Regions from separate parts of the Homo sapiens genome. Here all the other regions are reported to be linked to region 1. The links are microRNA targets in miRTarBase. Many come from high-throughput screens and were not tested one by one. Region 1 holds a microRNA gene; each other region holds the end of a gene's coding sequence.
What was found. Region 1 holds the annotated microRNA hsa-miR-4524b-5p (AUAGCAGCAUAAGCCUGUCUC, at 2,127-2,147, shown strand). A microRNA usually pairs through its seed, bases 2 to 8, with sites in the 3' UTR of a target mRNA and lowers its output. Matches are read on the target gene's strand: a 7mer-m8 pairs with bases 2 to 8, a 7mer-A1 pairs with bases 2 to 7 and ends in A, and an 8mer does both.

Region 1 (4,241 bases):
ACCTTTACCTAAACATCTTGGAGAGTTTCTGGCTCAGGATGGTGAACGTTGATAGATTTAACTGCTTTGTCTGAATAATGGGCATAATCGAATACAAATATAACATAAAATTGCAATTTCCAGAGTGGAAAAGGAATTCAAGTCTTAAATTTGGCCTTTGATTTCAACATCAATGATTTCCTTCTTGTGGCTGGGAAATAATGTGGTCAAAAGATTTATAATATTTCCCTTTGAAGGTTTAGACTAATTGGAGTCTCTGAAAAATCACTGTACTTTTCAGGTGACTTTGGAATAAAAAGCATTTTGAGTTTTTAGAAGTAAATTATCTGACTTGCCAAGAATAAGGTTTAGCTACAATATCTAAATTAAACATACATTCAAATGTTTTTGTCAGAAGAAAACATTTTGAACACATAGCATTCAAAATACAGATATTGAAATTCCTGAAATTTCTTCTTTTCCCTGCTTTTTCTTACCTTGTAATCACTGATGCTGCCCATGGTGATATAAGGAGAAATGCTACATAGAACCAAAAATAAGAAAAAGGAACCATCCGGCAACCCAGTCCAGAGTCCTATGTGGCTCTGAAAATATAAAGGGTAGCTTAAACTAGTGAATATTTGTTAAATGAAACAAATAATTATAGCCACAAAAATGCACTTTTTGAAATGTTGAAAAATCAAAGTAAAGGTGTAGCTCATTACCATCTAGGCACGAAGGTGGGAGGGAAAGTGACTCTGATCTTCAACTCAAAGAACAAAGAGAAGTCAAAAGTCATTTAGGACCTACTTCTGGGGATATTTCCAAAAGAATTGAAAGCAAGCTCTCGAAGAGATACCCTCACATTCATATTCATACCAACAATACTCACAAGTGGAAGCAACCCAAAAGTCCAAATTAATGGATTAACAAAATGTGTATGTATATACAAACAATGGATACTATTCAACCTTAAAAAGGATCACTTGAGGTCAGGAGTCTGAACCAGCCTGACCAACATGGTGAAACCCCATCTCTACTAAAAATACAAAATCAGCCAGGTGTGGTGGTAAATGTCTGTAATCCCAGCAACTTGGGAGGCTGAGGCAGGAGAATCGCTTGAATCTGGGAGGCAGAGGTTGCAGTGAGCAGAGATCGCCCCATTGCACTGCAGCCTGAGCAACAAGAACAAAACTCGGTCTCAAAAAAAAAAAAAAAAAAAAAAGAAGGAAATCCTGTCACATGCTACAACATAGACGAACCTGGAAAATATGCTAAGTGAAATAAACCAGTTACAAAAAGACAAATATTCCACTTATATAAGGTTTCTAAACTAGTAATATTCATAGAAACATAATAGGATGGTTATTTCCAGGGGATGGGGGAGGGGGAAAGCTAATTGGCATCGAGTTTCAATTCCGCAAGACGGCAAAGTTCTGGAGATGCATTTCACAACAATGTGAATATACTTAATACTACTCAACTGTACACTTGCAAACAGCTAAAATGGTCAATTTTATATCATGTATTATTACCACAACAAAAAAACAATAATTCAGAAGTTAGGACCTCTGATGAACATATAATTCAGGCCTGAGTAGCACGTCTTTCTGAGCAAACCCAGAGATGGAAACCTCAGTAGCTGGGTGGATGTGTTCTGAAGCACAGAACCAAGAAGAAAACTTGTTGCTGCTTGTCTTAACTTCAGGGAAAGGAACTTTAAATCACTACCCCCAAATCAGCATCCACTTGAGGCTAGGCCAAGTGGACACTCTAGCAGCATCTAGGACCACCTCATGGATATAATTACAGGATAACAGCATGAGCCTGTCTCAAAATAATTCCACAATTATTTAACTTTATTTAAGACTTTGAGGGCTATGTCTATAAATTCTGTTTTTCATCATAGGAATGAGGGAGGAAAGGTGTGTGCCATGGGGAAGTGGGAGTGGGGAACAGGTTTCTAATAGAGTAGCTATGGGCTTCAGTCCATTTTGATCCTGAGCAAACACAATGGCATTAGGAAGCTAATAATTCAGAAGTTAGGACCTTTGATGAACACATAATTCAGGCCTGAGCAGCATGTCTTTCTGAGCAAACCCAGAGATGGAAACCTCAGTAGCTGGGTGGATGTGTTCTTTTGAAGGATAGCAGCATAAGCCTGTCTCAAAATAATTCTGCAGTGAGACAGGTTCATGCTGCTATCGTTCCAAAGAGGAAGGGTAATCACTGTCTCTTTCTGCTACTCCTCTGGTTCCACTTTCTGGAGAATTCCCTTCAGACACCCCTTCCCTCGAGTCATCCTGTGCAGCAGACCTGTTTACGTGATCAGTCGGTCATACTCAACTCACGGAGGTATGTGTCTGTCACGAACATCTCAAGTACTGTATATTTCATCCCCATTGTTCCCATGGCTTACAGAAAACCTGTGCTTGCATATACTCCCAGCACCACTGATTCAGTGAAGCCAAAACTGAGCTTCACACTTTTGTCACAAAATGGACTTCCCTTTGGATGGCTTCATTTCTAATCCTGCTTCTTGATGTTTCAGACTTCTGGTGTGAAACAGTTGGAGTCAGCTTTGAGACACCCCTGTTGGTATCAGGCAGGGTCTAACCAGAAAACCATGACTACGTTAAGTTCTTAGAGTGCAATTCCTTATGACATGGTTAGGTGGGTGATGAGCATCCCACAAAGATGGTGAAGTGAGAAGCAAGCTATTGTTGCTTCTGGGCTTCAGGAACAGCAGAAGGAGGTGATGTGACTGGAGCCCAATGTAGGGGGTCCTCTGCTCTTCTGTCTCCCACCACTGCTTTCTAGTGTCCAAACTGTCTGAAGCCAGACTATAGCCAACTGACACAGAATCCAATGCAGCCTGTGTGTATTAGGCTCCCTCACAACATAGAGCAACTATGAGTAGGTGAATAAATAAATCAACAGATAGCCCCAGAACTGGCAGATTCTCCTTCATATTAGTCTGTCTACTACACATTTAGTCAATGGAGGGTCCACTAACTAATTATAATAGATTTATATGTAACCAGGGTTACAAGTTCTCCTGATTTCCAAGTCAGTGTTTTCTTTTTTCTGTTTCTCTTTCTCATACACTTCCACAATCAAGTATGTACAACTTTTCAAAACATTGCCTAGAAGACTGACAAAATATTGAAAAGTATTCCCTCACGATAATTATCTGATAACTTGGCAGGAAAAAAAAATCCTGTTTTGTTTGCTATAACCCATTGAAAATATTAGGATAAAATAATAATTTTCAGGCTTAACAATCACTTATGGATATTTAAAAGCTAAAGAGAGAAAACATAGGCTATTTGTCCAATTCTTAATTGTTTAGACTCAGTAAATCCAATACTTACAAGAGGAAATGGGCTTGACTCAATTCGAATATGTTGTGTGTGATTAAACATTTGAAGTAGCCCATTGCTGATAATATTCATAAGAATTGGAAAACAGTGCAATCTCTTGGTATTACACACAACTGAAAATCTATAATCCTTAAAACAGAAACAAATAAATAATGTTAATGCTAAATTCTTAAAGAACAAAGGCAAGGTTTATGTATAAAAGATCCTAACAGTGCCACATGCTTGTTGTGTGTCCATCTTCAAGTGAACTAAACTTTCTGAGCTTTACCTTCCTCATCTATGAAAAGGAAATACTAAATGGGTTGTTATAGGGCTTAAATGACACTCTATTCATGTACATTAAGCTCTAGCACAGAGTCAGCATACAATCAATATGAATTTTTATTTGTATTACTAATTTTAGATAATTTTGTCTCCATTTTGCTGATGGGGAAATTTCATTTAGTAGAGTTTAAAAGTCTCCCTGACAAGGAGATGCTGTCAGTTTATGATGAAGAAGCAAAGGAAGATTGGGCATGGTGGCTCACACCTGTAATTCTAGCACTTTGGGAGGCCAAGGCGGGCAGATCACTTGAGGTTAGGAGTTTGAGACTAGCCTGGCCAACATAGCAAAACCCTATGTTTACTAAAAAATACAAAAATTAGCCAGGTGTGGTGGCACACATCTGTAATCCCAGCTACTTGGAAGGCTGAGGCAGAAGAATCACTTAAACTCAGAAGGCAGAGGTTGTAGTGAGCTGCGATCACACCACTGCACTCCAGCCTGGGTGACAGAGCGAGACTCTGTCTCAAAAAAAAAAAAAAAAGCAGCAGCAGCAGCAAAGGAATGCTGGCCTTCTGGATAGGAGATAAGCATGGAGTTCATTAAATATTCATCCT
Region 2 (4,241 bases), not on the chromosome of region 1:
GGCCCGCGCGCCTGGTGCCCGCCGTCAGCCACGACTGGACCTTCCACGGCCCGGGCGCCACCGGCCAGGCGGCCGCCAACTGGACGGCGGGCTTCGGCCGCGGGCCCACGCCGCCCGCGCTTGTGGGCATCCGGCCCGCAGGGCCGGGCCGCGGCGCGCGCCGCCTCCTCGTGCTGGAAGAATTCAAGACGGAGAAGAGGCTGTGCAAGATGTTCTACGCCGTCACGCTGCTCTTCCTGCTCCTCTGGGGGCCCTACGTCGTGGCCAGCTACCTGCGGGTCCTGGTGCGGCCCGGCGCCGTCCCCCAGGCCTACCTGACGGCCTCCGTGTGGCTGACCTTCGCGCAGGCCGGCATCAACCCCGTCGTGTGCTTCCTCTTCAACAGGGAGCTGAGGGACTGCTTCAGGGCCCAGTTCCCCTGCTGCCAGAGCCCCCGGACCACCCAGGCGACCCATCCCTGCGACCTGAAAGGCATTGGTTTATGAGGGAGGCCCCGCCACATAGACCCCCAACCCAGCCTTTCCCTTTGGCTCGGACGGTGACGTTGTATCTTTTCCTTCTGGCCCCTGTTTAATTTTCTAAGCTGCCTTCAAAATGACTCGAAGTGGACAGACACTTGGATTGTACTGACTCCTTTGGGGGTGGGGTGGGTGAGGAGTAGGATGCTCAGCCCACTCCAGCTCCGCACATTCGTCCTCCTAACTCGACTTTCTTCCTGACAATAGGCCCTGCAGTCTTTTTGTAGCGGTACTGACGTCTTTTATTCCATGTGTGGTTCCTTTTTTTCTTTTTCTATAAAGGCTGTACTAATTTTCTTCATGCAACGTTTCCTAAAGACCATGGCCAGTTTTCTACAGAAGCTATTTTTGACAACCTCAAGTGGCATTACATTTTGCAGTGAAGTAGAGGAACCTAGGGGGACTTCTTCACAAGTTAGATTTCTTGAGGATCTTCTGTTGGAAGCAGGAGAAAGTGGGGGGTGGGGGGAAGTTGTCCGAAATGCCCTCTGAATTGCCGGCTGCAGGGTCCTTGTGCTGCGCTGGTTCTTTGAAAGTCTCAGTGTTGATATTGAACTTAAAGAGCAGAGATGGAGATCAGTAGCAAGGCAGTCATTTTTTTAAAGCAGTAAGTAACAAGTAAGATTTGGTTCCCGGTTTACTTTCTGCTGCTAAAAACCACGTCAGTGACAACTGCTCTCTGTATTATAGCAATCTTGAATGGAAACATTTCTGTCAAGTTGTAAGTTTTAAAAGAGTAAAGTGTTTTGGTTAGTAATGATGTGGAGAAAAATACAGTATTGCATGTGTTCGTGTGTATAGATTGTGGTTCGAGGATTGGGAGGGCTCTGAGAAGCAGAGTACTACATCAAAATTGTTTTAAGTATTTTTTGCCAATAAAAAATTAATTTTATGGAAATGGCTTGTGCTTTGAGAAGCCCAGTTTTATTCTGTCTTATGAAACTAATTTCCACTTTGAAAATTGTTCTTCTGTTGTTTATGGTATAAATGAATGGAATATAATGATATCCTCCTTCTAGGAAACAAAGCATTTCCTTAAAATGTTTGCTAGGTTAAGCTGTGCTGTTCTACTGATGGTTGTTTTAAATTAATAATGAGAACTATAATTTAAATAATATTTCTTTGTTAGACATTATAATGTTAAACTGAAAGACTAAATTCTGCAAGTACTATATAATATTTTTGGCTTATAATGCTACATTTTTATTAATGTACCTTCCGTTTTGAGGATTTATATCTGTATTTCTCTTTGCATTATACAAATATACCAGTATTTTCATTCTGGAGTGGTTGTTTTGTTGTGGTGGTGGTGGTGTTTGAGGCTGTAATAATACATGCGTCGAAGTATGTTACATGCCTCTAAGTATGTTATGTAAGGATAACATGCTCTATGATCCTTTTAGCACGTGTTCTTCAGTTACAGGTTTCATAGTTTGACCATCAGCATATCCAAGAAAAGTGGAGGCTTAATTTAAAATGCAAGATAAAATCTGCGAAACTTTTCTTTAAAGGGAAGAAGCAGTAGACATATATACGGCTTTAAAACTGTTTTTTTATTTGGATGACAACATTTCAATGACTATTCGTTAAATGACATAAAAAAGCTTTTAAGTAAACATATCAAACTCAAGTACAAGCGATCATTTTGATAAAAGTACTAGGTAAAAGTGGGGGTGGTAGATTATATTGAAATTTAGCTGAGTATAATATAAACTATTAAATGTTCAGTCCAATGGGAATAAGTTATAAAAAGAGTGTGGCCAATTTAATTGATCTCTGGTAAATAGGCTGCATGATTTTATTTTGTTGTGGAAGTTAATCAGTCTGTGAAGACAGTCTCACACTTGGAAAATATGAGACAGTTACCCTATTTCTCCCCACATCATGAATCCAGGTTGGCCTCAATCATCCAAGGGCCACTGATCGGAAACCTCAGCCAACCCCAAGATAGAGGAGCCCAGAAGTACCTCTCTCCTCATCTAACCCTCCACCTGCCCAAGTGATCTCAGTTCCAAATAGAGGTCGAACCAGTCTACGATGGCTCATGCCTGTAACCCCAGAACTTTGGGAGGCCGAGGCAGGAGAATTGCTTGAGACCAGGAGTTTGAGGCCAGCCTAAGCAACATAGCGAGACCATGTCTCTACAAAAAATCAAAAAATTAGCTGGGTGTGGTAATGTGCACCTGTGGTCACAGCTACTGGGGAGGCTGAGGTGAGAGGATGGCTTAAGCCCATGAGGTCAAGGCTGCAGTGAGCCATGACTGTGCCATGGCACTGTAGCCTGGATGACAGAGCTCTCGAGACCCTGTCTCAAAAAAGCCCCCAAAACAGAGATCACCAAGTCTCTGTGATTTTCCCACCTGGCATGGCACAGGAACCAGCCCATCATGGCTGACTCCTGAGCCACTCCAGCTTTGGGCAGCAGCTCAGCTGCACCAGAGGTGACGTGTTGGCCTGACATAGCCTTGAATTCAAGGGATATTTTGTCATATGAGAATTCATAAGCCAGAGGTTCTCAAATTCTAACATTCATACAAATTAAGTGTCTGTGTGATCCAGAGTCTTATGAGGACATGTTGAGTTGGGTCCTGGGGAAAAGCATTTCAACAGGTTCCTCAGGTGGTTGGAGACAGACCTCCAGGACTTCGTTCAGACATGATTTACTTCAGACATGATGCGTTCAAACTTGGCTACCTGGGTTTTTTATTTTTATGTTTTAAAGTTCTGATTAGATGGGGGAAGGCAAGATTTCTAGTGAGTGTGCAGGTGAGAGTAGCAAGAAATAACAGCCAACTAAAGGAAACGAGAACCAAAAGAGCCAGAGAAACAAGCTATGTAGCAGAAAGTGGGGAGGTGCAAAGGGCCACCCCAACAGCTTTTAGGATTGGTGAATCTATTAACATGTACTTTGATAGTTAATTACATTAATCAAAAATTATAAAAAAAAAAAAAAGGTTAGTTGTGTCCACAGTACTCTACTTATTGTACCAGCACAGGCACCATGTATTTAGGGAAGATTTCATTAAAATTGCTCATTTTATTTATTTGGGAAGTTAATTTAGCACAACTTCCCCACCCTCCCACGCAGTTGTCACTATACTTGAAGCAATGTAGGCTTCCCGTACATAGATCTTTGTCTGTATGTTCTAGCATGGAATTGCTGGGTCAAAAGAAGCATTTTTAGGACTTTTGATATCTTGTCAAATAGTTTTGTAGAAGGACCATATGTCTATATGTCTGTTTAAATGTACAGTACACCTGACATATTCTTTTTTTTTCTTTTGAGACAGAGTCTCGCTCTGTTGCCCAGCTTGGATTGCAGTGGCGTGATCTCAGCTCACTGCAACCTCCACCTTTGGGTTCAAGTAGCTGGGATTACAGCTCAGCCTCCCAAGTAGCTGGGATTACAGGCGCCTGCCACCAGGCCCAACTAATTTTTGTATTTTTAGCAGAGACAGGGTTTCGCTATGTCGGCCAGGCTGGTCTCTAACTGTTGGCCTCAAGTGGTTTACCAGCCTTGGCCTCCCAAAGTGCTGAGATTACAGGTGTGACACATTCATTTTTTAAATGAAATATTTTAAGCAAAGTGGGGAAGCATGTAACAAATCAGTAACAACAGTGATAATCTCTGTGTCCACTACTCAGCCTTACCAAATGCCATATTGGTTTCTACTCTTCCTTTTCTCTTTTCCCTTCCTTCCTTCTTTCTTCCTTCCTTCCCTC
Region 3 (4,241 bases), not on the chromosome of region 1:
ATGACAGAAGTATACACACGCAGCACAGAGGAGGATCTTCAGCCCAGCCAGGAAGATTCAGGGAAGGCTCCCTAGAGGAACCAAGCCTTGAGCTGAGTCTTGAGTCATGGCTAGCAGTTCCCTCAAGCAGAATTGCTGAGGGGCTCAGGAGCATAGACTGAGAAATCAGATAGCCATGGGTTCAAATCCTGACTCTTGTCTGCTTATCTCAGAAAAGCTATTTACACTCTTTGTTTTTAAAAAAAGACAATAATAGTACCCACTCCTAGGGTTGCTATGAGTATTAAATCACCTAAATGTGTATAAAGTGCTTGGCATAGTAGTTTGCACCTTCTCAGTGCTCAGTAAATGGTTATTGACATGTTAAGTATTTCCCAACTGTATTGCTCCTTCTGTAATGTCCTATGTCCATTCGTGGCATTACTCATTCATTAAGCCAGAAATCTGAGTGACACCTTCAAGGCGTCCCATCTTTACATTATTCTCCAGATCCAGCTTACTGCACTTATGCCTCCTAAATGTCTCTCAAAGTCAACATCATTATCTCTTACCTGGACCACTTTAGCAGCTCCCTGAATGGTCTCCCTGCTGTCTTGTTGCCCCATCCAGTCCATTTCCTTTCTTTTGGCCGTAGTTTCATCTTTCAAATAAAACTATGAGGTTTCCATCTTAGCCTCCCACCCCCAACTCTATGGGTCCCTTCTGGCCGTATCTCCTCCACGCCCTCCACAGCCACCATAACCTGTCACCCTCTCCAGCCTATGCTTTCATTCCCAACACACATGTGCTTCCATGGCTTTGCCCAGGTTGGTCCCTTGGCCAGAAATGAATTTCTCCCTTCTCTTCCTTGACTACAAAATGCTAATTCATCCTGCAAGATCCAACTCACAAGGCAGAAGGCTTTCCCAGACTGCCTGTGCTATGGTTGTACCCTCCAAAACTTACACTGAAATTTGTCATTGTATTAAGAGGTGGGACCTTTAAGAGGTTATTAGGCCATGAGGGCTGCACTCTCATGGGTGGATTGACACCCTTATAAAAGGGCAAGTTCAACTCCCTCTTGCCCTCTCTTGCCCTCTCACCTGCCATGGGATGACACAGCAAGAAGGCCCTCACAAGTTGCCAGCCCCTTGACACTGAATTCCCCAGCACCCAGAACTGTGAGCCAATAAATACCTGTTCATTATAAGTTATCCAGTCTGTGGTATTGTTATAGCAGCACAAAATGGACTAAAACACCCTGGTTGCTAGAGGCTCTCTCCTCTCAATCCCTTGGCCCCTCTGGGAGAACAGGTTTCCCTTTGCACCATAACTTTCTGTTTATATGCTGGCCATGGCCAGACTGTAAGCAACTCAAGCAAAAGGACTGGACCTAATCTTTCACTATCTATGGGGCTCAGCATAACTACCTAGGCCACAAGAACCAAAGGAGACTCATCCACACCAGACATGGAAAACTCTATGAATAAAGTCATAGACCCATAAAATGCTGTATAAATGTAAAGGTTAAACTCAGACTCAGCCACTTCCTGGCTTCATGGTTTGAGGTAAGCTGTTTAAACCTCTCCAAGCCCATTTCCTCATCTGTAAATGGGGGTGAAAACAATATCTGTTTTACAGCATTGCTCTGAGTTCAAACCTCACCCATGCCCCCAATTTTAGAGATGATAAAACAACCTCAGAGAGGTAAACTGACCCAGCCCTTCTACTGGAGACCTTTGGACAGTCATCCAATTTAAGTCTTCCCAAAGCTGGCTGCTCAGAATCTTGTGAAGCACTTGTTAAAACCTTATTCGAGGGCAGAGTCTATTCACTAAGTCTTGGACCAGGCCCAGGAGTCTGTATGGGATCACCTCCAAACGGACTGCTTTTGGGAATTCAGATCACATTAGAGTTCTCCTCACCTTCCAGGCTCATGTGTGTACGTGGACCATCTCTTGCTTTTCCAAAGTTGTCTACCAAACCAGTCTATAAAACGTTCATGCCACTCCTCTGTTCAAAACCCTTCTATGGCTCCCTACAGCCCACAAGACCCAGGCCACCTGCCTCAATGAGACCCAAACACTGATATAATCAAGTCTCTGTGCTCCCAATGTCTCTTCCTCTTCCAAGCCTTTGCACAGCTGTTCCCTGATCTTGGAACATTCTTCCCAGCCCTGGCCCTCCTTCAGCAGCTAATCTCTAATCATCTTTCTGGCACTTACTCCTGTATTTTAACTGCTTGCTTATTTGTCTGTTTTTCCCATATGACCATAAGTTCCATTAAGGGTAGAAACTACATCTTGTTCAGGGCTATTCCTGTGGCGCCCAAAAGTGATAAATGTCTGCTGGATAAATGAATGAGAAGAATTAGCTGACCCAGTGTGGCCCAGAAAAGCAGCCAATCCTGAAGGCTTTTCCTCCTGCCTGGAGGTGACACACCAACCCAAAGGACTGCTCAAGGAGTGGAAAGGGGCTTTCTGGGTGGAGACTGCCATCAGCCCTCTCTGGTCTAAGAAGCCTGCAAAGCTAAAAGCTCATGATTTGGCATTAGACCTGGGTCCACCACATTTAGTCCTGTGACCTCAGACAGGTCTTGTAACCTGCCCTGAGCTTTGGCTTTCTCTTCTATTGTAAGGACCAGCCACATTCATGTAAAGCACTCACCCCTTGCCTGACCCACACTGACCACTCAATAAAGCCATCGATACTAGGTTCTGGTTGCCATTTAGCTTCCCAGGAGAGCTCTGTTCTTTGTACTTCCTCTTCCCCCACCCCAGCCTCCACCAAGGTGGCCACCCATAGGAGGCATCAGAAAATGCGGCAGGACTGAAGATTTTCTGCTGCTGATCAGGAATGACTGGAGCAGAAGGAACATTGTGCCCCTAGGGGAAGGGAAACCAATTATTTGTCAATACCTAACAATAACCACACTCCCGGTTTATTGAGCACATGCTGCGTGCCCGGCGAGCTCCGGACTTCCCTCTCTGGGGGAACCCTGCGGACTGGGAGGCAGAACGGGATACACCGAAATAGGAAGAACGGAGAGCTTGGCACCCTCCCCCTCTTCACCCCACCTGGGCCCCTCCAGGAGGGTCCAGGCCCTTACTGTGGGCATCAGGGGGCCGAATCTCCTTTCCACCAGCTGGCCCATCCCTGGAAGGAGCTCAGGCAACCCCTGCTATCTCCAAACCAAGAGAGTGGGCTCCCGGTCCCTTCTCCCTTCACCCCCGTCCTCCCACACACGGGACGGAGGTGGCCTCTTCTGGAGAGAGCAGCTGGCTCGAGTGCAGTTCTGCCGTTTTATTTTTCCTGGGATATTCAAGGGGATGTGGGAACAGCCACAGGTGTGGTGAGGGGAAGCCCCCATCTCCCCTCCCCAGCCGCTGGGAAAGGGGAGAGGCCCAGGCGCCCTGGTCCTGGGTTGGTCCAGCCACTGTGGTCCCTGGGCCCAGTGGGCAGAGGGCTGAGGATGGAGCCCCTGGGAGGGTGGGGCGGGCTCCTAGGCAGGGTTCGGGATTCTTCATAAAAAGCCACGAAGCTTGATCCCCACGAAGCCCAGCCCCGCGGGGTGGGGGAGGGGGGGACGCAGAGCCCAGATGAGGGACCCGGCCCGGCCTGGCCCGTGGGGGAAAGAATGGCAGAGATGGTGCCCATGGGGAGGAGGTGGGGACAAAGCGTCGGACCAGGTGGGCAGGGGATCCAGGTGAGGGGCGCAGGGCGGAGAGGCACGGCCCCCTGCCCAGCCCGGGCGCCTTCGCGTGGGATCAGGAAGGTAAAAAACCCACGAGAGTGTGACGGGCCCGGGGGCCGGGGCGTCCGGTGCCGGTGGGGCGGGCGCACGGGGCGGCCCGCGTTCACAGTGACCTCGACGCTGGGTGTACAGTACGGGTGGAGAACCGCGGGCCCGGGCCGGGCTGGGCGGGCCGGACCGGTCACAGCCTGGTCTGGGCCTCGGGGATGTAGATCTCGATGCTGTCGGCGCTCTCGGTGGCCGAGCTGTGGCGGAAGGAAGCGGCGCGCTTGGCCGCCAGGAGCCGCTTGCGCGCTTCCTGCCGCTGCCGGTCCACGGAGTCCAGGGAGCGCTCCTTCACCGGCACGCCCCGGCCCCGCAGGGGCTTCTTTGGTATCGGCGGAGGGACCTTCTTCTCCTCCTGCGGGGCAGAGGGCGTCGCTGAGCTGGGGCGCCGAACCATCCCAACACCCAGGTGTCCGCCCCCGCACCCCCGCGCCCAGAGTGCTGACGACCGCGTGGCTCCGAA

Region 2: miRTarBase lists GPR27 as a target of hsa-miR-4524b-5p. Seed matches in the 3' UTR shown: 8mer at 1,165-1,172.
Region 3: the mRNA of DLGAP3 is a reported target of hsa-miR-4524b-5p. The part of its 3' UTR that is shown has no 7-base or 8-base seed match.

What each region holds. Positions count from the first base shown.
Region 1 is chr17:69,097,444-69,101,684 of GRCh38, forward strand. It overlaps MIR4524B (microRNA 4524b), which reads left to right and starts at 2,099; the gene lies at 2,099-2,213. ABCA6 (ATP binding cassette subfamily A member 6) reads right to left here. Exons shown (of 39, transcript NM_080284.3): 22 at 3,354-3,491; 23 at 477-584. MIR4524A (microRNA 4524a) reads right to left here and starts at 2,189; the gene lies at 2,121-2,189.
Region 2 is chr3:71,754,693-71,758,933 of GRCh38, forward strand. GPR27 (G protein-coupled receptor 27) reads left to right here. Exons shown (of 1, transcript NM_018971.3): 1 at 1-1,804. The coding sequence ends at 485. It also overlaps a transcript of EIF4E3 not described here. Among named protein-coding and RNA genes, the nearest start is that of GPR27, 3.0 kb to the left of the region's middle.
Region 3 is chr1:34,862,169-34,866,409 of GRCh38, forward strand. DLGAP3 (DLG associated protein 3) reads right to left here. Exons shown (of 12, transcript NM_001080418.3): 12 at 3,268-4,133. The coding sequence ends at 3,915. Among named protein-coding and RNA genes, the nearest start is that of SMIM12, 4.5 kb to the left of the region's middle. RefSeq lists a silencer at 3,757-3,806 and enhancers at 3,967-4,046, 4,097-4,196.